Homo sapiens: one gene and its partners. The protein of the gene in region 2 purifies or fractionates together with the protein of the main gene of each other region. This does not show direct contact. Each region holds a gene or a part of one and is shown on either strand. Other genes may lie near its edges.

Region 1 (4,991 bases), on a different chromosome or scaffold from region 2:
TCAGCAGCGTCTGAGGTGTGACCACACAGAGGATCTTTGATGTTAGATGGCTGGGGCTGTGGCCAGGCTCTGAGTCACAGAGGACTCCTCCCTCATCCTACCCGCTTCCCGAGGTTCCTTTCCCTCCCTTCTTGGGGAGCAGGTGCCACCATCTTCCTCCGGCACTGTTTGCTTACTTCTGGCAGACCCCCGTGGGACCCCTGTGTCCTGTCTACTGTCATCCCAATCCCTCTGAAAACCGCCAGCCTCCCTCCTCACTTGTCACTCGTGAGATGCTCAGAAACACTTTCACACCCCTTCCCACGCTGATGAAGTTGGCCTGTTCTCTCCTCCCTCCTCCCTTCCTTCTTCCTCTCTCCATCCTTTCCTCTCTCTCCCATTTTACAGACAGGAAAAACTGAGATCTGGGAAATGGAAATATGCCCTGGAACAGGGCCGGCAGGACCAGGGCTCAAAACCAGGCACATATTTCTTTCTAGTCTCCCTTCCTGAAAGGTCACCTCTCTCCAATCTTAGATCTTCAGACTTTTTTCCCCACCTTTATTTTTCATGTTATAAAAGTGCACATTCAAGGAAAAGTACACAGAAGGAAGGAGACACCTCATGACGACCCCAGTATGCAGTCTGGGACATGTGTTTTCAGATCTGATTCTGTGAATATTTCATTTTTTATGGGTAGGGTCACATACATATATATTTTTGTCCTTCCTTTTGTCATTTAACATCCTATAGCCTAAATGTTCTTGAATAATACTGACAATTCTGTCTAAGTATCATTTTTAATAGGTTTGTAATATCATTGTGGGCTGGCCGTGGTGGCTCATGCCTGTAATCCCAGCACTTTGGGAGGCCAAGGTGGGTGGATCATCTGAGGTCAGGCGTTCAAGACCATGCTGGCCAACATGGTGAAACCCTGTCTCTAGTAAAAATACACAAAAAATTAGCCTGGTGTGGTGGTGCACACCTGTAGTCCCAGGTACTTGGGAGGCTGAAGCACGAGAATCACTTGAACCCAGGAGGCGGAGGTTGCAGTGAGCCAAGATTGCATCACTGCATTGCAGCCCAAGCAACAGAGACTCTGTCTCAAAGAAAAAAAACATCGTTGTGCCAAGCCAGACTATTATTTAAGCCATCTGGTACTTTTGGAACATGTTTGATGGTTTCACTTCATTTCTGTGATAAATAATATCATGGTAAATTCAAGTCTTGTTCTACATTTTGGATTTTTTTTGTTTCAGTAGGTTCTTCCTAAGATTAGAGTTACTGGGTCAAAGGTGGTGAATAAGGGTCTCGGTGTACGTTGACCAAGTGTCTTCCGTAAAGACTGTACGAACGTCCAGTTCCAGTGTTTGAGAGTGCTGGTCTCACTGACTCTTCTCCAGCACTGAGGGTTTTGTGTTTCTTTATTTGTTTTGGTTTTAGGTCTTTACCAATTTGATTGGTTTATCAACAGGGCATGAGGTTGGTTTAAATATATCTTTGAGGAAAGGTAAAGTCAAATTTGACTTCATAGGTCATCGGCGTCCTCACTCCTGTGCATTTTCTGTTGGAAGCACACAGTTAATTAACTCAGTGTGGCGTTAGCGATGCTTTTTCATGGTGTCATTTATCCACTTGGTGAACTTGCACACTTGAGTGTAGACTCCTGGGTCATTGGGTTGGCCGCAAGGGAAAGTTCCCCAGGACACCAGACCTTGCAGGGTACCTCTGCACACCAACGGTCCCCCTGAGTCACCCTAGAGGGAATAGAGCCGGAGATTAACTTTGGCTTCAGATCAAAGCCCAACTCATTCTCATACATTCCTCAGTTATCGGTCTTTGTCTTGCAGATTATGGACTTCCACCATAGCCAATGAGAAGAGACTCATTGTCTCTGGGGACTAATGGGAGAGCTAGTGCTAGGGACACACTAGGTCCTTTGAAGACACTGGTTTGACCCTTGGCCAATGAGACCAATTGCAGAGAAGGGGTGGGGCTTCCAGGATCAGAGCACTCTTTATTTTCCAATGTTAAGGACCCTGCTCCAAGCTAGTGGGAGAAGGAACATCATCTCCAAGGGGTGGATGCGTGCCCTGTGGCGCAGGAAAGGGGGACACGATGGTCTCGGAGACCAGGGTGAAGACCAGTTACATAATTTACAGGACTTGGTGCAAAACGAAAATGCAGGGCCCTTTGTTCAAAAATTATTGAGAATTTCAAGACAACAGCAGGAATGCATTAGACTAAGTTTGAGACCCTTCTGAGTGTGGGGCTCTGTGTCCGTGCAGAGCTTGCACATTCATGAAACTGGCCCTCACCAGGGGAGAAGGGGAACACCCTATTCTCTAGGACAGTCATCTCTCTCCCATCTCCTCTATCCCTAACACTCACCATCCCACATCCCCTGACAGCTGAAGGTGCAGATGTGAGCAAGGAGGATGGGTGTGGAGAGACAGAGAGAGTTGGAGGTGGAGAAGAAAGAGGGAAAGGAGAGAGAGACAAAGAGAGATGAGGAAGAGGGAAAGGGTATGGGGAGAGAGAGAGACAGAGAGATGGGGGTGGAAAAGAAGGAGGGAGAAGAGAGACAGACAAAGAGATGAGGGAGATGGGGAGGGTGTGGGAAGAGAAGAGAGAGAGAGATGGGGGTGGAGAAGAAAGAGGGAGAAGAGAGAGACAAAGAGAAAGGGGGGGAAGGTGTGGGGAGAGAGATGGGGTGGGGGTGGGGAGAGGAGAGAGAGACTGGAAGAGAGGAGGAGAATAAAGAGAGAGAAAGAAAGACAGAGATGGGGGAGCGGCAGGGAGAGGAGAGAGATAGAAGAAAGAGAAAGAGAGAGACAGTAAAAAGGAGGGGGCAAGGAGAGATGAGGGAGAGAGATGAAGAGAGACAGAGAAGTGGGGGAGAGAGAGAAAGAGGAGAGGGCCAGAGAGGAGACAGAGAGAGAGGAAAAAAGAGAGAGCAGGGGGGCAGGGAGAGGAGAGAGGGAGGGGAGGAGAGAGAGAGAAGCAAGAGAAAGAGGGAGAAGACAGAGAGCAGAGAGGAGGGCATGGAGAGAGAACAAGGGAGGGAGAGCAAGCTAGCTCAACACAGAGAAAAAACAAAGAGGAAAAGAATGAAATGAAATTATGTCACAAAGAGAGATGTGGGAAGACTGTTCAGAAACAGAGGGGATGACAAAAGGCCAGAAAGAGGGAACAGAGAGGAGGTGGAGAGAAAGAGTGTTTTCCCCGGGACCAGGGCCAGGGTCAGGTGAGTGAGTCATCAGCTTCAGGCACAAAATCTCAGTAACTGCAATACACAATACTTCAATGCAGTACTTAACGAAATCAAATGTAATACATAAAACTGCATGATGGGCATGGTATCCACATTTTAAATGAAGACAGTGCCAGTACAGCGCTGTGCTGAGCCACGCTAGTACTTACGGCAAGGGAAAATTCAGTAAGATCCACCTGCTCTTTATTTAAAATGTGACATTTTGTCCATCATGGACTTCTGCATGAGTTTTTATTTTTATTTTTAAATATTGCATTATGATTTATCTCAATCACTGAGGTTTTTGGTGCCCCCTTAAGGTTTGGGCCTGAGGCCAGCACCTCAGTCTCCTTCCCTGGTCCCACCCCCACTTTCTCACCCCTATTAAACTCTCTGTCTCATCCCCAGGGCCACATTGGCCCCTAAGTAAACTCCCACCCCTGACCTAGGCAGAGAATGAGGTGGAAAAAGCTGAGGAGGCCAGGCCTGGGGGGAGGGCAAGGCCGGGCTTGGTACCCAGTCACTCGGGTCAAGCTCTGTCCCTGGGGCATGCAGACAGGGTACCCAGGACTGGGGAGGAATTGGGGGGGAGGGTCTCACATTGCAGGCGTTTTTCTTGGAGTCGGGGATGCCAGCGCACAGCATGGAATTTTCCAGTAAGTCCTTGTAAACCTTCGTGCAGTCCTGGGGGGAGATGAGCTTGACATCCACGCACATGAGGTCAGAGGGAAAGGTCACTGCAGGGAGGAGCAGGGAGAGCTGTCAGTCAGAGAGGATGGGGGCGAGGACCAGAAGGGCTGTTGTTCAGGCTCCTGGTTCCGAGGGAGGAGGGTCTGGGGCCCAGGACTGCTGGGTCTGAGGGAGGAGGGGCTGGGGTCTGGACTCCCGGGTCTGAGGGAGGAGGGGCTGGGGGCCTGGACTCCTGGGTCTGAGGGAGGAGGGGCTGAGGCCTGGACTCCTGGGTCTGAGGGAGGAGGGGCTGGGGGCCTGGACTCCTGGGTCTGAGGGAGGAGGGCTGGGGCCTGCACTCCTGGGTCACTGAGGCCACCTACCATCTGGGCTCGTGGTAGTGCCCCAGCCGGAGACAGTACAGGTGGTTCCAGGGGGTTCGCAGCGGGAGGGCAGCCTGACTTTCTTCACCATGGATGACAGCCTGGCCTGGCTATTGAGCTTCACGAGCATGAGGTCATTAACATGGGTCTGTGTGGAGTAGCCGGGGTGGCGGAATGACTTCGAGGCCTTGATCCTCTGAGCTCTCCTGTCGCCCAGCGTATCACTGCCCAGGTGCACGGTGTACTCACTGCGAGGAGTGACATTCACAGATTCAGAAGAGACACTGTGACAGAGAGGGTGTGCAAAGACCTGGGGGACGGGGTGGGGACAGAGACCCAGAGAGAGGAGGGGGGACAGAGACACAGAGAGAGGAGGGGAGACAGAGACCCAGAGAGAGGGGAACAGAGATCCAGAGAGAGAGGGGGACAGAGCCCCAGAGAGAGGGAGACAGAGACCCAGAGAGGGGGGGACAGAGACCCAGAGAGAGGAGGGGGGAGAGAGACACAGAGATAGGAGGGGGGACAGAGACACAGAGAGAGGAGGGGGGAGAGAGACACAGAGAGAGGAGAGGGGACAGAGACCCAGAGAGAGGGGAACAGAGACCCAGAGAGAGAGGGGGACAGAGATCCAGAGAGAGAGGGACAGAGACCCAGAGAGAGAGGGACAGAGACCCAGAGAGAGGGGAACAGAGACCAGAGAGAGAGGG
Region 2 (7,892 bases):
AGCCTGAAATCACTGTGCTTAATAAAAGAAGCCACTCACAAAAGGCCTCAGATCATATTACTCCATATATATAAAATGTCCAAAAGTGGTAAATCCACAGAAACAGAAAGTAGGTTAGTAGTTACCAGGGTCTGGAGTGGGGTGGATGGGGAGTGACTGTAAACAGGTATGTAGTTTCTTTTCAGGATGATGAAAATGTTCTGAAATTAGTGGTGATGGTTGCACAAAACCATCTATACTATAAATGAATATACTAAATACCACTGAATTGTACACTTTAAAAGAGTGAATTTTATGGTATGTGAATTATATCTCAATAAAGCTGTTATTTTTAAAAAGAATGTTTCATTCATTTGCAACTTCTTTTATTTAATAAAATTTCTATTTGTTGTCACTAAGATTGTTGGATCATGATCAGACAAATGGAAAGAACCCTGTCATCGCTTTTATTTTTCACCTTTCAATTTGCAAAGAAGAGTAAACTAGTTTCATTTCCAAGTTTGCATGCATCCAGTAGAGTCATTTGTGTCATTTCCCCACCCAGGAGAAAGTTTTTCTTCTCTAAGACCGAAAGAGTACAGATGCAAAAGTTCTATTCTTGAGAAAATGCCCTAACATTTTCTTTAAACCAAAGTACCTTTCTATCTAAAAGAACCTTAGTTTTCTCCTATGACCAGAGGCTTGTGGGCTTCACTGCTAAAAGCACACAGCTGAACAGTATTTCTCTTTACCAAGTAAGGTACTAAAAACTATTATGAATTGTGACAATATTTGAATACCTTAAACAACGAAGACAATGAGCTGGGGTAAGGATCTGAGTAACATTATTTTAAATGTTTACTTGCTGTAATAATGACAGCAATGTTAATAACTACTGTTTTTTTGAGCAACTATAATGTGCTAAATAAACACTGTCCTAGGCTCTTTACAAATAGGGTATTTCACTTAGTCCCCACAGTAACTCTGAGGAAAGTATTTTTATTTCTCATTTCATAGGTAAGGAAATTGAGGCCTAGAAAGATTATTTGTCTTGGTCACACACACAACAGAGCCCAAATAGTAACCCAAGTCTTTCTGAACTCGAAAGTTCTCTATTTCTCTATATTCTTCAAAATGAAAAAGGAATCCAGAAACTTGAAGAAACTGAAAAGACTTCTCTTCCTATCTCAGAAAAGTAGTGCTTTAAAAAAGTTGACTGTTCTTATAGCCAAATACAGGAAATATAGGAAAAAAAGATTGTTAATAGCAACCAGCAGTCAGAAGGCACAGAAGCCCATGCCACGTCCCACATCTCTTACACTGCTTCCTGATACAACAGTCTTCCTATTGATTATGATTATAATCTTAGGATGTCAAAATTTAATGATCTCACTACGGAAAACCCCAGAGAATAGCAGTTAGCACAACTAGAGAGCTCACTAGACCAGGAAGGAAAAGGAATCAGTTGGCAGGAAGTGTGCTTACCTAAAAACACAGAACATCTTTAACAGTAATATTAACACTGTTGAGTCCACAGCACTTTAATCTGAAGTTATCTTTGCATTCCTTTCTATTACTTTAATAAGTATTACTAAAAGCTGATTTCCACCCTATTCTCCATATGTCTACTAGAATCCTTAATAAAATAAGACTCTTGGTGGGGCATGGTGGCTAACGCCTGTAATCCCAACACTTTGGGAGGCCAAGGCAAGAGGATCACTTGAGGCCAGGAGTCAGAGACCAGCCCTGGCAACACAGTCAGACCTTGTCTCTATTTCATTTAAAAAAAAAAAAAAAATTAAGGCTCTTACCTAGCCACTACTGACCCTCATCTCTCTCTCGCTTAAAAAAAAAAAGTCACGAGTTCAAAAGATTATCCCAGAAGGAAAAAACCTGAATCCATTAGAAAAGGTAGCACAGGGGACACAACCAAACATGAATTTCATCACCAAGTAGACTGTAGCTGGCAGAAATCTTAAATTTACGACTGAAATACACACTCTTCCTTATACTTCTCAGGACTTTGCCCAAAATAAACTGAAACAGTAAACCAACAGTAGATTGATGGATGGATAATTTGCCAAAAGTCTCAACATACACCGAAAAGAGGGTGGGGGTAGTCTTAGGGGGTCTGCTCTCCAGTTAAACAACTGAAGAATGAACGAATTTAGTGCATTTGCACAAGAAGTGCATTACAATGCAGGGGAGGAAGAAGTCACTTGGGGTTGGACAAATCCTTAGAAAATGCCAAAGGAATAACCCTGATTCTGTGGTCGTCTTGTAATAATTCCTAGTGGGAAAGGGCCAACTCAAGATAAAGTAAGGTCAGGGTTGAGAATCGTCCTCACTTTTCCTGCCTAACCCTCTCGGCAGGCGGCCCCAAACTCCCACCGGAATCCTTCGGGTAAGTGCCGACCTCAGGGATCAAGGGAAGGGGCCATCCTCGAGCGACCAACCACCTGTGCGTGGTGGAGACCCCTGAGAGGGAGTCCTAATTAGAGTGGGAAGCAGCTCTGGGGAGGAACTTCCGAGACCAGGGCCGACACTGACTATTCACCCAACTCCACTCCCCTTTACGCCCAATCTTCGGCCACCTTCCCGCTGAGGTCACCCCTCCTGAAACCTCCGCCCCCAGACCCCGGTCTACACCCACATCCAGCCGTCCCCAAAGCTCGCTGTTCGCTTCGCTGCCTGACAGCTGCCCTGCCGCCACCAGGCAGTCCCAGCTTCCCCAAACCAGTCTTCTGGCCTCTGTGGCGCCCCAGGCCCGCGGGATTCAGGGATTAGGATCTGGAAGGGTTTGGTCCAATCCCCTATCCCTCTCAGCGTCCTGGGCTCACCTCCCCGGCAGCTTAGCGCTCCTCTTCCAAAACTGCTTGCTGTTCTCAGCGGCCATTGCTCTGGCCGGGGGAAGTCCTTGTAGGCGGGCCAAGGGTTTGCCCGGCGAGATGCCCCCAGACCCCGCAATCTGAGGGCCAACCCAGGCCGCTTCCCCGCCGCCGGTCACCCGCTCCCAGCTCCTGGGGACGCCATCTTGGATGTGGGCACCCCTCCACCCAGCACCGCTGCCATTGGTGAGCTGCGCAAGCCGTGGACGGGCCGACCAATTGGGAGCCGGAATCCTGCAGGCCGCTGAAGCCGACCGGTAACGTCAGGGGCTGGGCACACAGGTGGACGGGGAAGGCGGAGCTTGGACGAGCCGAGAGGCGGGGCTCAAAGTTCCTACCCGCGAGAGGGAAGAAGCAGGTAAGGTAAGGGACCTATGGGAAGGAAGAGGGGATTATCTTCTTCGTGAGGAATGAAGTTCCTTAGTCTAATATTTCTTGGCAAGAGAGAACATACTATGTATTTATATATAGGAATCTTTCACCTAAAAGTAAGGGCCCATGTGTTGGTTGTGGCCCATTTTTAACATCTCTCAATTCAATGACACTCTGGTTATTACCCTCCTTTCCTCATTCCGTTTACATGTCCATTCGTTTTTCTGAAGGAAGGTCAGCAGGGACCCGATAGCCCGGGATTGCTAACTGTTCAACACGTGAGCAACGGTTCATCAGAGTCTCCCTCTCCCTCTGTTTATTGAAAACGATTGAAGGACTTGTGCTGTGGGTTAAAAATTCAAATGATCTAATCCCTATGTCAATCCATAACTCTCACTTTCTGACTATGCTAACAGTGTATATAGGAAATGGTTTATGATAGCTGTCCAACTCAGATTACCAAATACCATTTCTTTGAAGGACACAGTATTGCTCCATCGTGTGAATCACAAAGTTAAGGATGTATCTCCTCCCGGCCCCACCAACATCCTTAATTTCCCTTGTTAATCTATTATAAATCTTGCACCCTTGAATTTATTTTCAATCTAATTTTCCCAGACAATGAGATTTAGTATTAGCATTTTGAATCCTTTGAATGTCTTGTCAGCGTTTTTTGCTGGTTTTGAGTTTCTGTGGTTGTATTCCGTGGTGATTTGGGGAAAGAGGGAAGGCGGGCACCAGTCCAGAGTGGTTTTTGTCCCTTCGAAGGACTGTTGAGGTGGGCTGCGTGTCCCCCACCCCCACCCCCACCCTCCATTTACAGCTACCACATGTACTTCCACATATTGGAGAATACTTAAAGACCTGACCCCTGGCCCCAGCCAAAGAAGGACCTTCTTTTATATGTCCTCCAACGACGGTTTCTTCATTACTCCCATTTTCAAGCTTCTTTTGTCCCCTAATTTAAGAATTATAGGATTGGATGACAAGGGCTATTTTTACTTCCTCTGAGTCTTTCATGCTATAAAAGCATCTTATCTTCTTTATGGGCATTTAACCCAGAGAAAAAAAGCCCCTCTATTCTTTTAATTATTTTACTTGCCTTTCTCTGGCGCTTCTTTTTCTTAGGATGCAGTGACCAGCACTGCACACTAAGCCCAAAGAGGGATGTACTGAGGCTTTGTTAAGGCTGATGTTTTGTCTTTATTCTGGACAGCCAGACCTTTTGCTGGCTGTTTGGACTTTAGAAGAGTTGATGTCTTGAAAGAGTAATCTAAAACAACTTCTAGATTCCTTACCTTGGTGGCAACCAGCAGTTCAGAGTTCATTGTCTTAAAGGTATCCTCTGAATTGTCTTTCCCTATGTGAGCTGCCATACACTCATCCATGTGACAAGATACCTGCCACTTTCCAGCTTATGCACATGGCTTTAGAGATGTTCCAGAAGCTGCTCCCTATTGATTTGACATTTTACTATGTGGAAAGCAAAGTATGATTTGTGTATCTAGACATATCTCAAAATACTCCTTTTTCTTAATCTTCTATGAAATGTTAAATGACACTGATTCCCAGGGGGTGTAGTTAACAGTGCTCAACCCAGAAAAGCCCTGTTATTTCTACAGTTTGTTTTCTATATCAGTTTCCCCTCCAAGATTTTTTAAAAATTCACATCAGTTACCTTGTGATGACTTTTTAAATAGGGAAATTGAGATTGTTGGAACCTTTTTCACCACTACCACTTGGTCACCCTAATCTTCACCAACCACACACCTGCTTACAGCAGCCTGCTATTCGGCTCCCTGCTTCCACTCTTAGCCCCTTAGAGTCCATTCCCCATATACCAACCAGAGAGACCTTTTTTTTTTTTTTTGAGACCAGGTCTTGCCCTGTCACCCAAGCTGGAGTCCAGTGACATGATCTCAGCACACTACAACCTCCATCTCCTGGGCTCAAGCAATCCTCCCACATCAGCCTCCTGAGTAGCTGGGACTAACAGGCACATACCACCATGGCCAGCTAATTTTTTGTATTTTTGTAGAGATGAAGTTTCACCATGTTGCCCAGGCTGGTCCCATACTCCTGAAACTCAAGCAATCCACCACCTTTGGCCTCCCAGAGAGCTAGTATTACAGGTGGGAGCCATCGCACCCTGCCCAGAGACACCCTGTTAAAATGTAGACGATATCATGTCACTCCTCTGCTGAAAACTTTGCAATGGCCCCCATTGTACTTGGCATAAAATCCAAGCTCCTTAAAGACCCTACATGACTTGGCTCCACTCACCTCTCCAGTCTCATCTCATTATGCTTTCTTTCTTGCTTAATCTGCTGCAGCCATGCCCATTGGTCTTATTGCCTGGCTCTATTTTTCTTTAAAGCGCTATCACTACAGGCCATATTATGTACTTGTTTGTTGTCCATCTCCATCCCCTAGAGTAAAGGCCCCCTGTCTGTTGCCTGTTAGGAACCAGGCCGCACAGCAGGAGGTGAGTGGCGGGTGGGCATGCAATCATTACTGCCAGAGCTCCGCCTCCTGTCAGATCAGCAGCAGCAGCAGATTCTCACAGGAGTTTGAACCCTATTGTGAACTGCTCATACAAGGGATCTAGGTTGCATTGCGCACTCCTTATGAGAATCTAATGCCTTGTGATTTGAAGTGGAACTGTTTCATCCTTTAACCCCCCTCCCCCAAAATTTTCATGGAAAAGTTGTCTTCCCTGAAACTGGTCCCAGGTGCCAAAAAGGTTGGGGACTACTGCCCTAGAGATCGTGAACCCCACTAAGACTGGGACTTTGTTTTGTTCCCTGCTGTATCCCCAGCACCTAGAATAGTGTTTGGAACATAGTGAGTGCTTAGTAAATATTTACTGAGTGAAAGAAGGAAGAATATAAATATTTCTTGTCTTTCGATTCTATGTTGTTCACATATTTTTATGTTAGGAAAGATGATAGAAACAGTGTTTCCTAACCCCTAGTAGGATGTGTCCACTTTACCAATGACTCTACATCCTTGCCTACATCCTTGGTTGAAGAACAGTCTTCTCTGAGAAAGATTGTATTCTTCAAACTCTTTTGCAGCTTCAAAGGAATGTGCCTGTACCTGGAATGATGAGGGAGGGAGGCCACCCACCTAGTCAGGAGATCAGTTGGTAGCTGTCATCAAAGGGCTGATAGGTATGGCAGCCACCCTTGCCCAGCAAGAGGTGTAAATCATTGGTTTGAGGTTCCCAAGGGGTCCTTAGAGGCCTTCTGATGGAGGTCCTTCTTGGCAGACATTCACTGGTCCACTAGACCAGTGCTTCCTATACTATATTGCACATGTGAATCACTGAGGATTATATTAAAAACCTAGATTCTGATTCAGGAGGTCTGAGGTGGAGCCTACAACTCAGAATTTCTAACAAGCTCCCAGGTGACACTGATGCTGCTGATCCATGGACCTCACTTTATAGATCTTCTGTTACTAATACAGTATGGCCTGTGATTGTTTACTTTATCTCAAGAGTTTATTTTGAAACTGTAAGTAGAGGCTTCTGCAAGTTTTTACTTTCCCCCCCTCAACTTCATCTTCATTCAAAAGAGGGTTAAACAACTTAAAATGTGGCAAAGTATAGTTAAGGGATGAGATATGCCTGGGTTGACTGTGGACTCAAAAGAGGTAGGCATATCCCAACCCTTAGAGAAAGTTTTATGAAAGAGATAATCCTTGAGTAGGGAGAGAAAAGGAAAGAGAAAGGCCTGAAGAACTATAGGAGGAAAGTCACTTCAGGACAGGAGCTCCAATGGGAAGATAAAAATAGAGAAAAAAGCCTTTGGACTTACAGAGAGATCCCTGGCAGACTTTAACCTTAGTGAAGGAGTGGAGTGGAAGGAAGGAAGTAGACACTGTGATGAGGGGAAGGGTTAAGAAATGAGAGCAAGAAGCAGCCCTCACAATGCACTGTGCAATGTTGGGCCACCTAAGAGATAGTGAGGTCAAGCTGGGATTTAACAGCAAGAGAGCTTTATAGTATCTAAACAACCACTGTTAGAGCCAATGGCAGAGATCAGTTATATTAGAGAAGGCAAGGGGATAAGCAAAAAGACTGAAAAAGTAAGAGGTTATAGGAATAAAGAGAGGAAGAGAAAGTTTTTAGAATTTGGGGGGTGAAGGGAAAACTAGGTATTTCATTCCTAAGAATTTATTCTAAGAAAAGAAGTCACCATACCTGGCAAGAAGAAAGGGGGAAATCTCTGTGTACAAAGATATTCTTTGCCTTGCAACCAATAATAAACAGGGGAAAATGAAAAGAATATGAAGATTTAAACATGAGAAGAAGTTATGTAAATTATGGTGTGCAGTTTATAAACTTGAACCATGTTATACCATTAAAGAGGGCAAATTTGAATGCTACATAGCACATCAAAAAGGTGTATGAAATGTACAGCAGGGAAAAGGTAGAATATAAAATATCTTTGCATGATTTCAATAAGAATATATGGGTTTTGTCAAAGATTGGAAGAAAACGTGGAAAAATTAAGCAAATTTTGGTAGAGGGTAGAATTATATACATCTTGGTACTTCTGGAACTTTTCTTTAATGTTACCGTTTTTTAATATTATAAAATATACATCACCTGGGTAACAGTAGCTCACACCTGCAATCCCAGCACTT
Region 3 (7,041 bases), on a different chromosome or scaffold from region 2:
CCATTAGGTCGGGGCTAGGATCAGACGTTAGCACTCTCAGGAAGGGCACAGCTGCTCTGACAGTAGTCATAGTGCAATTCCAGACCCTCATAAAACCATGGCTCAGATCACCCAGCAATAGGAGCTGCTCATTTCACAACCCCAAAAGGCTAGGTCGTGTGGGTGGCTCAGTTGCTCCTGTGGAGGGTCAGGCTTCCTTTCAGGGTTTGCGCAACCAAGTTGGGTCATATGGCCACTGCAATGTTCCCTCAACTGAGAAGTGCAGTTGTCTTCAGAGCACATTCTTTCTCAGCCATGATAGCCCATGTAGAACCTTTGTGCAAATTAGAAAACAGCTCATTCTTTTGGATAGCTGCCCTACTCCTATGTGAAGGGCTAGATGACTGGGGTGGAAACTGAATTTCAGCTTTGTGTAAGGCAAAGCTTACACATACATGCTGTCTAGCAGTTTTGCCCATTCCCCAGAATTTTCCTGGGAGCCACAGGGGTATGAAGAGAATAGAATTACTGACTGAAAGGATATTAGCACTGGAATACATCTTAGAGGTCATCTACTCCAATCTCCTCATTTAATAGTTTGCCCAGAGACTGGCTTGGCATGTACCCGTTTGATTATTATGTAAATTCAGAGTATTTTGAATCTTGCTTTTAAAAAATGCTGATAAAATCTCAAGACATATGTACAAAAGGTATAAGGAAAAATGCAATAAACACACTTTAACCCCTCCTTTAAGTGTACAAAATAAACTATTACCAAATCAGCTGATGCCCCTTAGGCTGATGTATAACACCTTCCTTGAGCACGCCCCCATCCTCTCCTCAGAGAGGAAGTCCCACTATTGTGGATTAGGTGTTCATTATTCCCACGTATTTATTATTTCATTACATGCCATATATTTTTGTCATTCTTCTTTGGAACTTGATTATTTTTGGCTTAGCATCATGTTTATAAGATTCATCTATTTTAAGGGGATACTTATAGCTCTATTTGATTCATTTTTATAGCTATTTCCTCATTTATTTTGTTGATGGGGCCGGCCTTCCTTCCTTCCTTCCTTCCCTCCTTCCTTCCTTTTTTCTTTCCTTCCTTCCTTCCTTCCTTCCCTCCTTCCTTCCTTTTTTCTTTCCTTCCTTCCTTCCTTCTACAAACAATGCAAAAATGGCCTTTTTAATGCCAGCCTCCTAATTTGCCTGGGTGAGAGTTTATCCAGTCCCAAGCTATCCAGTATAGTAGCTACTCAAGTGGCTATTGAACACTTGCAATACATCTAGTTTGAATCCAGATGTGCTATAGGTATAAAATGCATATTATATTTTAAGAACTTAGTATGAGAAAGGAATACAAAATATTAATTTTCATGTATTATTTTTGCTGAAATATGTATCTTATATATTAATATGTAATTAATATTTATTGTATTTATATGTTGAAATAATGACATTCTAGATATGTCGTTAAGGTAACATAGAATATGAAAACTTCAATCAGAAAACTGATGGGTCCTACATAAAATATTCAGAAAATTTTTTTTTTCCCCTGGAGACAAGGATAAATCTCACTTCAGCCCAATGTGTAGTGACTCATACCATTAGGAGTCACTCTTCTTATTCACTATCTGGAAAAATTTCCAAACTTCAATAGATAAGAATCGTCCGGAGAAATCACTTACTTTCCTTAGATGCTTAGAATCTTGTGGGGAGCTAAAAACAAGCTTATTGAACATTTAGTGAGCACTTTTATTTGAGACCAAAAAAGCCCACAACTTGAGTTATAAATGCAAGATCTGTGGTGTTGGGCTGGCAGAGAAGGCTTCTCTCTGGAGCTGAGATTGGTCATAACTGACATTATCATATGACTTGGGTAAAGGCTACCTGATATCCAGGGGCCACATCAAACACAGGGATCACCCTTGAGGCTGACAAACGGAGGGAGAGACCCAGCAGCCGCATCCTCTTAGGGGAGAATCTGGGCTTGCTTTTGCCAAGATAACCTGTTGAGATTTTGTTTTAATTTTCAAGATTGAGAACACAGAAGCAGTACATCAACAATTCCAAAAGTTTTTGACTGAAATAAGCAAACTCACTAATGATTATGAACTGAACATAACCAACAGGCTGTTTGGAGAAAAAACATACCTCTTCCTTCAAGTAAGTTTGCCATGCCTACCATATCTGTGAGTGGTATTCTGGAATGGCCAAATGGCCCTGGTAGGACTATGGGTCCTGAAGTCGTGCTGCCTGGCTCTGGCCACATCCCTGTGGTGCTTTTCCATCCTGATCTACAGATATTCAGAACTGCAGGGAGTTCCTTTTTAGTCCTGGCAATCTGAACCTGATTTTTGCCTCATCCCCAGAATAGCTGCATAAAAATGTGCAGCAGGAACTCAATGTGAGATGCCCAGGGCCTTAAAATTTCTCTTACTGTATTAGTCATCCTAATGTATACATAAATTTATTTAGAGATGTTGGCAATTGATAAATTGAGTTTTTAACCTCTTTTTATTCCTTCCTTGTTTCTCCTAAAGAAATACTTAGATTATGTTGAAAAATATTATCATGCATCTCTGGAACCTGTTGATTTTGTAAATGCAGCCGATGAAAGTCGAAAGAAGATTAATTCCTGGGTTGAAAGCAAAACAAATGGTAGAGTATGGGTGGGTCATTCATTGCAAAAAAACAAAAACAAAGAAACAAACAAACAAAAAACACTTCTTGACAACCTGCTGTGAATGAAGCCCTGGACTTGTCACTGCGTGGGGTGCCATGCAGTGCACAAGCTTTGGGAAGGGACTTGAGATAGGTTTTGCAGGGTTGGAAGGGCAAGCCCAGGCCTAGGAGGTAGGGAAGGCACTGCAGATGGTGGAGCAATTTCAGCAAATGTGGAGCGGCCAAGGGGAGCCAGTGAGGGGACTGCATGAAGCCAAATGCACGGAAACGCTTGCTGGAGAACTGTTTACACATAGCCATGGATCACAATATCTTGGGGGTCCTGAAAATAGGATGATGCCTGTCTTGGGTTTACATTCTTTCCTTTATATCAGAGCCTTTCTTCCTGAGTTTTTCTCTGTCTGTGTTAAATGAGAAACACGCAGCTCTCCCATCAAGACTTGTCGTTCCCATCCACAGCTGGGGCCACCTAGTCTTCATCTTCACTTAAGCATAGTGCAGGGGTAACGACAACCTACAGCTCTCCCCACAGCAGAGGATTTGACAAGTTTCTTATCCCATTATTCCTTTCTCATCCCCTGGTATGGGAAATCCACAGAGAAATGTTAATGTGGAAATTCACCTTGGGGAGCAATAGCTGATACTTTAGTGTTAGAGTTTCAGATTCCATTTTTATACCAATTATCAGAGAGAACTTTGTTATTCAGAATGTGTTTTTTTTTTCCCCTCATGCTTGGTCTGAAGAAAGGAAATAAAAGAAACAGAAAAAATAGGATCTTTCAAAAAGTTGAACAGTATTTTTTAGAATTTATTGTGGGATGGGGTGAACTCAGAGACAAAAATATCAACTCCTTCTCCAATATAATAAGTAATCCCTTAATCTCAGGTGGTAACTATATTGAATGGTAAGCATAATAGCTAACACAGAGTGCTTATTATGTGTGAGATGGTATTCTAATAGCTTTACATGTGTTAAATCATTTGTTCCTTTCAACAACCCTATGAGGCAGATTTTATTCCTATTTTACAGATGTGGAAACTGAGGCACAGAGAGTTTAAATAACTTGCCCAAGATTCCTCAGCTGATAAGAGGCAAACTGGATGCTAACAGAGGCATCTGACCCCAGAGTCTGGACTCTTAACCATGAACCTTAATTTATCCACTGGGATAAATAGGCGATGGGCAAAATGAGAACCTCCCCGTCGATTCTGCCAGCAAACCCTTTGTCAGCAAGGCCCTCAGGTGCTGACCTGGCTGGGTTTTTAATGATCAGTCAAGTCCATCTGCATCATATTTGTCATACATATTATTTGTCATTTGGAAGATGGGTCAACCTTTTTCTGTTTCTTCATTTGCAGAAAAAATCAAGGACTTGTTCCCAGATGGCTCTATTAGTAGCTCTACCAAGCTGGTGCTGGTGAACATGGTTTATTTTAAAGGGCAATGGGACAGGGAGTTTAAGAAAGAAAATACTAAGGAAGAGAAATTTTGGATGAATAAGGTATGGCCCTTAGTTTATTTTCGTGATGTGCTTACACATGGAATGTAAAGTCTAAAGTCATGGCTGGGCGTGGTGGCTGACACCTGTAATCCCAGCACTTTGGGAGGCCAAGGTGGGTGGATCATGAGATCAAGGGATCGAGACTATCCTTGCCAACATGGTGAAACCCCGTATCTACTAAAAACATAAAAATTAGCTGGGTGTGGTGGTGCACGCCGGTAGTCCCAGCTACTTGGGAGGCTGAGGCAGGACAATTGCTTGAACCCGGGAGGCAGAGGTTGCAGTGAGCCAAGATCATGCCACTGCACTCCAGCCTGGTGACAGAGTGAGACTCCATCCCCCACCCCCCCAAAAAAATCTAAAGTCATATTTGAGCAAATGCATACTGGTAGATAGTGGATGCTCATTCTGAGACTCTGATATTGGGTTTTATTTTAGATTGAGCTAATTATTTTGATGAACTAACTTGGTTGCCTTAATGCCTTTGGTCTTATGTCCTTTGATATTGTGTGCTCTGTTAATTTGTTGCAGAGCACAAGTAAATCTGTACAGATGATGACACAGAGCCATTCCTTTAGCTTCACTTTCCTGGAGGACTTGCAGGCCAAAATTCTAGGGATTCCATATAAAAACAACGACCTAAGCATGTTTGTGCTTCTGCCCAACGACATCGATGGCCTGGAGAAGGTAAACGCTTACACCTCCTTATTCTTTCTTTCATTTCCTAAGGCTTTTTGTCTCAGGGCTTCTGAGTAGGAGCTGGTGGCCAGCAGTGTCAAATAGAAAGTGTTTCTCACTCTCCAGCAGCTACAGATGGATGTCTACTGGGGAGCATTAAATAGTATGGGTCAGGTTTATTGAGAACAACTAATCCTAGAATGTTTGGGATGAACTAAAATGAACATTTAAGATTATATGGGAGTCCTAACGATCACCCACCATTCTGAGAAATGGTTGGTATCTATGGACCCCTTTCCTGGAAAAAAGAAATCACATATGCATATATACAACCAGTTCTGCACACTGTTCAATAGGCTTTTGGAGCTTTTGAATTTCTTTCTTACACTCTTACACCATTGATTTAGTCTCATCCATTCTGTGGTTAAAAAAATTATGTGAAGGCCGGGCGTGGTGGCTCACGCCTGTAATCCCAGCACTTTAGGAGGCTGAGGCGGGCGGATCACGAGGTCAGGAGATCGAGACCATCCTGGCTAACACGGTGAAACCCCGTCTCTACTAAAAATACAAAAAATTAGCCTGGCGTGGTTGTGGGCGCCTGTAGTCCCAGCTACTCGGGAGGCTGAGACAGGAGAATGGCGTGAACCTGGGAGGTGGAGCTTGCAGTGAGCCGAGATAGCGCCACTGCACTCCGCCTGGGTGACAGAACGAGACTCTGTCTCAAAATTAAATAAATAAATAAATAAATAAATAAATAAATAAATAAATAAATAAATTGTGGCTAGTGTCCTGTATTTTGAAAATGAGGAGAGTTTTGTTTCAAATCCCTGTTCCTCTAGTGGCTTTCTGACCCTTGAAGCTTCTTAACTTCCTTGAACTTCAATACTTTCCCATCTCTGAAGAGGGCTCCATGGTGGTTAACGTGCAGCAGTGTTGGAATGATTAGAGAAACGTAGCCTAGAAGGGGTCTAGGACATAGAAAGCACTCAAATGATAACTGCTATCGTCTTATACTACCAGATGCTGTGCTACTTCTGTGAAATATTGCTAGTAGCATTTTAAGTTGGAAAATATTTTGAGACAGCAAAATAGCAATATGTCTGAGAGCTTTAAGAGTATTTCTGATTCAAAAACCCCAGTTGTGGGAATTACTCTAAAGAAATAATGCAGAAGAAAAAAGTTGCCTTTCTGAGTAAAATCAGTTATTTCGGTATTAAATACACTGGAATGCCCAGTTTGAAATTCATCGTAATTATTATTTTGTATCCTTAGTAACTATCAAATCTATCACAATGCCTGATAAAGACTAAATGTTTGTAAAGTGAATGAATAGCTAAATATTGGGAAAAATTTATCAACTTCATAAGAATATTATCTAGCTGTTTGAAGATAGGAGAGATATGCAATATTGTGAAAAAGTTTACTTTTTATCAAATAAAATGGACATTCACTGTGATTGCAACTATGTAAATATATATGCATTCAAAGACTAGGAGAGATAGTTAAAATGAAATATATACTAGGTTGATAAAATAAGAAATGACTTATTTTTAATCTTTAAAAATGTATTCAATGCTATTGGATTTCCACATATACACAGATAATTTAAACAGAGAGATATAAGACAACCGCCTGCAGTATAAAGACAACAATCTAGTGAAATAAAATTTCTACTTTTAATATTACTAAAATTAATAACTTCTGACTGACACAAATCAGTGTTACACTGTTTTAGATTTTTATTGATAATCATGCCATTCTACTCTTCTTTTTTTGAAAATAGATAATAGATAAAATAAGTCCTGAGAAATTGGTAGAGTGGACTAGTCCAGGGCATATGGAAGAAAGAAAGGTGAATCTGCACTTGCCCCGGTTTGAGGTGGAGGACGGTTACGATCTAGAGGCGGTCCTGGCTGCCATGGGGATGGGCGATGCCTTCAGTGAGCACAAAGCCGACTACTCGGGAATGTCGTCAGGCTCCGGGTTGTACGCCCAGAAGTTCCTGCACAGTTCCTTTGTGGCAGTAACTGAGGAAGGCACCGAGGCTGCAGCTGCCACCGGCATAGGCTTTACTGTCACATCCGCCCCAGGTCATGAAAATGTTCACTGCAATCATCCCTTCCTGTTCTTCATCAGGCACAATGAATCCAACAGCATCCTCTTCTTCGGCAGATTTTCTTCTCCTTAAGATGAT
Region 4 (3,147 bases), on a different chromosome or scaffold from region 2:
TGTGACCCATTTGCACCCAGAACAACACACTGCTGGTTACAGTTATTTAAGGAAGCATCTTTTCCTGAGGACCTTAATGAAGACCTGTGCTCACTCCACCCTCCTCTCCTCTCTGTGGTGGCTGCTGCCTGGATTCCAGCTTCAGCCACTGGACTTGGGATTTGGAACTGATGCCTGTGGAACTGGGTCTCTGTGAAGAGTGGGGAACCTGCTGAGACTTGTTCTTGGGAATTGAGCTATAGACTAGAAGATTGTGCAGTAAACAAGAAGAAAGATCACCAAGATCGTGACATTGGAGACCTTGCTCTACTTTAATAAAAACTAGAGATAAGTACTGGTCACATTTTGTGGCATTTCCAGGACTGGAACTTCCCCAGTCCTTGTTATTTTTGACTCCCCAGATGTTTCCTGAGGATACCCTAGAACTTCATGTCCACCAGAGGAGACTGCCTTTCCCACATATTCACCTGGACAACCAGAAATGAAAAAGTGCACTTGGAGTGAGTCCTTGACCCAGGCAGCATTTTATTCTGAGGAAGCTGGAAGGTGAATTCATGAAGGCACTGAAGGCTGCTTCCCATGCACAAGACACAGGAAGATAGGAAATGCAGAAGGAGGAGGAGGTGCCGGAGAGGTGAGGACAGGGGCTGGATGGACGCTGGGTGGAAGGCAGGGCTCGGCACTCCAGTGTACTAAGGGAGTGGAAGGAGAAGGGAGGCTGGGTGCCAGCCGAGCTCTGAAGGAGATACAAGTCCGTGTCAGCCACTGACTTGAACCAGAGAAGAACGGGTTCAGGCTTTAGATGATGTGGATGAAGAAACCACTGGGGACATACCATGAGCAGGATTTCCAAGAACAGAGCTATTTGCACTGCAAACACAGCCAGCTGCTAGCTGCCAGCACAGCTAAGCAGAGACATGGAAATTCTAGGGGGTTTGGCCAAGAAAAGCCCTGGATGACAATATCAGGAGAATTGCTTGGTTGCTCTGGAGTAACTTTGATGTGATGAAGCTGAGGTTTCTCTGAAAGAGTGGAAAACCCCAGGGTGTTATGCCGGATTACGGGTCTTGATCCTCCTTAGCAGGGCAATTGGAACTTCTAAATCCTCTCTACCCACCCCTCCCACTTTAACCTGAATTCTCCTTTCCATTCCAGCTGCCTCCAAGACGTCAGAGAATTTCCAGCCAAGACAGACGGACTCCAGAATGCCACTGTGGGACAATTTTGAAGCAAGAAAAATTAACGTGCAAAGTCATCCTGGAGTCTGGGGAAGAAAGAGGCATTTCCTCATGTTTAACAAGCGTTGGAGCTCAAAGAGTGAGCTTGGGAGCCTGTCCTGTCACGGTTCTGATGGGACATAGGGTCGCTTACAAATGAAAAGAAACGTTTTGTCACATGGGGCATCATTCCAGGCCTGAAGTGAGGGAGCCTTTATATTGCCACAGTGTTCATTGTTCCCAGCATTGTTGGGCTCACCTGGAATCCAGAACCTACCAAGAGCGGGGAAAAAGATGGATTTACAAAGTGGAAAATCAAAAAGAACTTATTTCCAGTGAAGAAATGAGTTAACTCAACCCAAGCTTTTGTCCTAGGGAATGGCATAGCAAATGTCTGCACCCAAGCCTCAGAGGAAGGGGACTGGTGAGACTTCGACCTCTAAGCTTTCACATGCCCCAAGTCCAGGCCAAACCAACCCACCACTTTCAAGTCCCTACACAAACCCACACTGTGAAGACCTAGACTCATGACAAGATCCCTGAAGCTGGCCAGGTAGAAGGCCTTGTTGCCAAACCCCAGAGGGCGTGGAGGGCTCAGGTCCACAGCCAGTTGGTGACAGGGTTGTGCTCGATCTTGGTTGCAATGTTCCTGTCACTCTAAGACAGGGAAGAATCAGAAACCCTGTCTCATGGGGAACATCGCCCCCACTCCCTTCATGCCCTGGCCATGGCCGGGGAAAGTCAGGCTGGCACGGAGGGCTCCAGGGGCTTACCTCACACTTTGGACCTTGTTGAATGGCGTGTCATCCACCCAGGACCAGTCCCCTTCCATCCCTGCTTTAGTCAGGCCAATCCAGTAGATGAGTCCCCCCGCTGTTTTATACAGAAACTCCTGTAGGAAAGACAGGATAAGCAGAGGTGCGGCCACACTTGGAGCTTGATCATCTGTCTCTGGGTGTTCTTCACCTGCGCTCAGTGACAGCCCTGACCCACAGATGCGCTGCACAAACTGGCCTCTCAAGCTTCTTCCTGCCCTTGCCCAGAGCCCAGATTTCATCTTCCAGATTATGATGTGTCCCTGCTCTGCAGCTAACAAGCTCAGGACTCAAGCCTTTCTGCCACTCAGGAAGCAGGTGCTGAAGCACAGGAAGGCCTCAGCTGAACTCCAGAGCACGGACCGCAAGAGAATGGTTCATATGATAATACCTGAATTAAATGAGCCCTGAATCCACATACGGCACTGTGCTGAGTCGTCCATATGCATTCTCTCCTTTCCTCTGAGGCAGGTGCCATCACCATGCATGTTTCATCAAGTGAGGGCCAGTGAAGTTTGCCCAGTGAAGTTGGGTATTCCACCCAAGCTGCTAGGACTAGTTAGATGGCAAGGTTCAGGCTCTAGAACTACGCCAGAGCCCAGGCTCTGACCTGCTCTGCTATCCCACCTCCCAGATGAAAAGGGCCTGCCCAATTTCTGCCTCACCAGGCAGGAGACTTCTTGAGTCATGTGGAATCATTAAGGCTGTTCACAAATATTTCTTTTTTTCTGGGCACATGGAAAGTAGATCCTCTCTGCCCTGTTCCAGGAGTACTGGAATCCAGGATCCTCCCAATCCAGGAGTACTGCATAACTTACTTAACTTAATTAACATAACTTAAGCTAGTGAAATGTAAGCAAAAATGAGGTATGTTAAATCTGGGCAGAAGCTTTGCACAATATGTCAAGTTCCCCTTTCCTGCCCCAGCAATTGTGGAGACATATTAAGATGAAGACTCCTTGGGCCTGGGTCCTTGAGTAGCCACAGTGAGCACAGCCCCCTTGCCGGCCCTTATTCGACATGCTACTGAGAACCAATCCTTCTTCATTAGGTCATCAATATTTGGGGATTTTTGTTCACGCAGTATAATCTTGCCCATCCTCCCTGGCCCAGTG

Evidence for each region.
Region 1: the proteins of TBC1D22B (region 2) and KLK7 purify together in Homo sapiens (affinity purification with mass spectrometry; 2 studies listed by BioGRID and IntAct, with this or other methods). This does not show direct contact.
Region 3: the proteins of TBC1D22B (region 2) and SERPINB13 purify together in Homo sapiens (affinity purification with mass spectrometry; 2 studies listed by BioGRID and IntAct, with this or other methods). This does not show direct contact.
Region 4: the proteins of TBC1D22B (region 2) and CD207 purify together in Homo sapiens (affinity purification with mass spectrometry; 2 studies listed by BioGRID and IntAct, with this or other methods). This does not show direct contact.

Annotation. Positions count from the first base shown.
Region 1 is NC_000019.10:50,975,956-50,980,946, forward strand, and holds the end of KLK7 (kallikrein-7 isoform 1 preproprotein), read right to left. Parts: intron 4,533-4,991; coding exon 4,285-4,532; intron 3,970-4,284; coding exon 3,833-3,969; intron 1,737-3,832; coding exon 1,581-1,736; 3' UTR 513-1,580; downstream 1-512. UniProt on the Homo sapiens protein: May catalyze the degradation of intercellular cohesive structures in the cornified layer of the skin in the continuous shedding of cells from the skin surface. Specific for amino acid residues with aromatic side chains in the P1 position.
Region 2 is NC_000006.12:37,252,901-37,260,792, reverse strand, and holds the start of TBC1D22B (TBC1 domain family member 22B), read right to left. Parts: upstream 3,022-7,892; 5' UTR 2,876-3,021; coding exon 2,820-2,875; exon of another isoform or gene 2,649-2,819; intron 1-2,648. UniProt on the Homo sapiens protein: May act as a GTPase-activating protein for Rab family protein(s).
Region 3 is NC_000018.10:63,590,329-63,597,369, forward strand, and holds part of SERPINB13 (serpin B13), read left to right. Parts: intron 1-2,019; coding exon 2,020-2,148; intron 2,149-2,525; coding exon 2,526-2,643; intron 2,644-3,697; exon of another isoform or gene 3,698-3,846; coding exon of another isoform or gene 3,847-3,910; intron 3,911-4,026; coding exon 4,027-4,169; intron 4,170-4,700; coding exon 4,701-4,856; intron 4,857-6,630; coding exon 6,631-7,035; 3' UTR 7,036-7,041. UniProt on the Homo sapiens protein: May play a role in the proliferation or differentiation of keratinocytes.
Region 4 is NC_000002.12:70,829,711-70,832,857, forward strand, and holds the end of CD207 (C-type lectin domain family 4 member K), read right to left. Parts: intron 2,110-3,147; coding exon 1,991-2,109; intron 1,491-1,990; coding exon 1,340-1,490; 3' UTR 1,212-1,339; coding exon of another isoform or gene 1,099-1,211; 3' UTR 501-1,098; downstream 1-500. UniProt on the Homo sapiens protein: Calcium-dependent lectin displaying mannose-binding specificity. Induces the formation of Birbeck granules (BGs); is a potent regulator of membrane superimposition and zippering.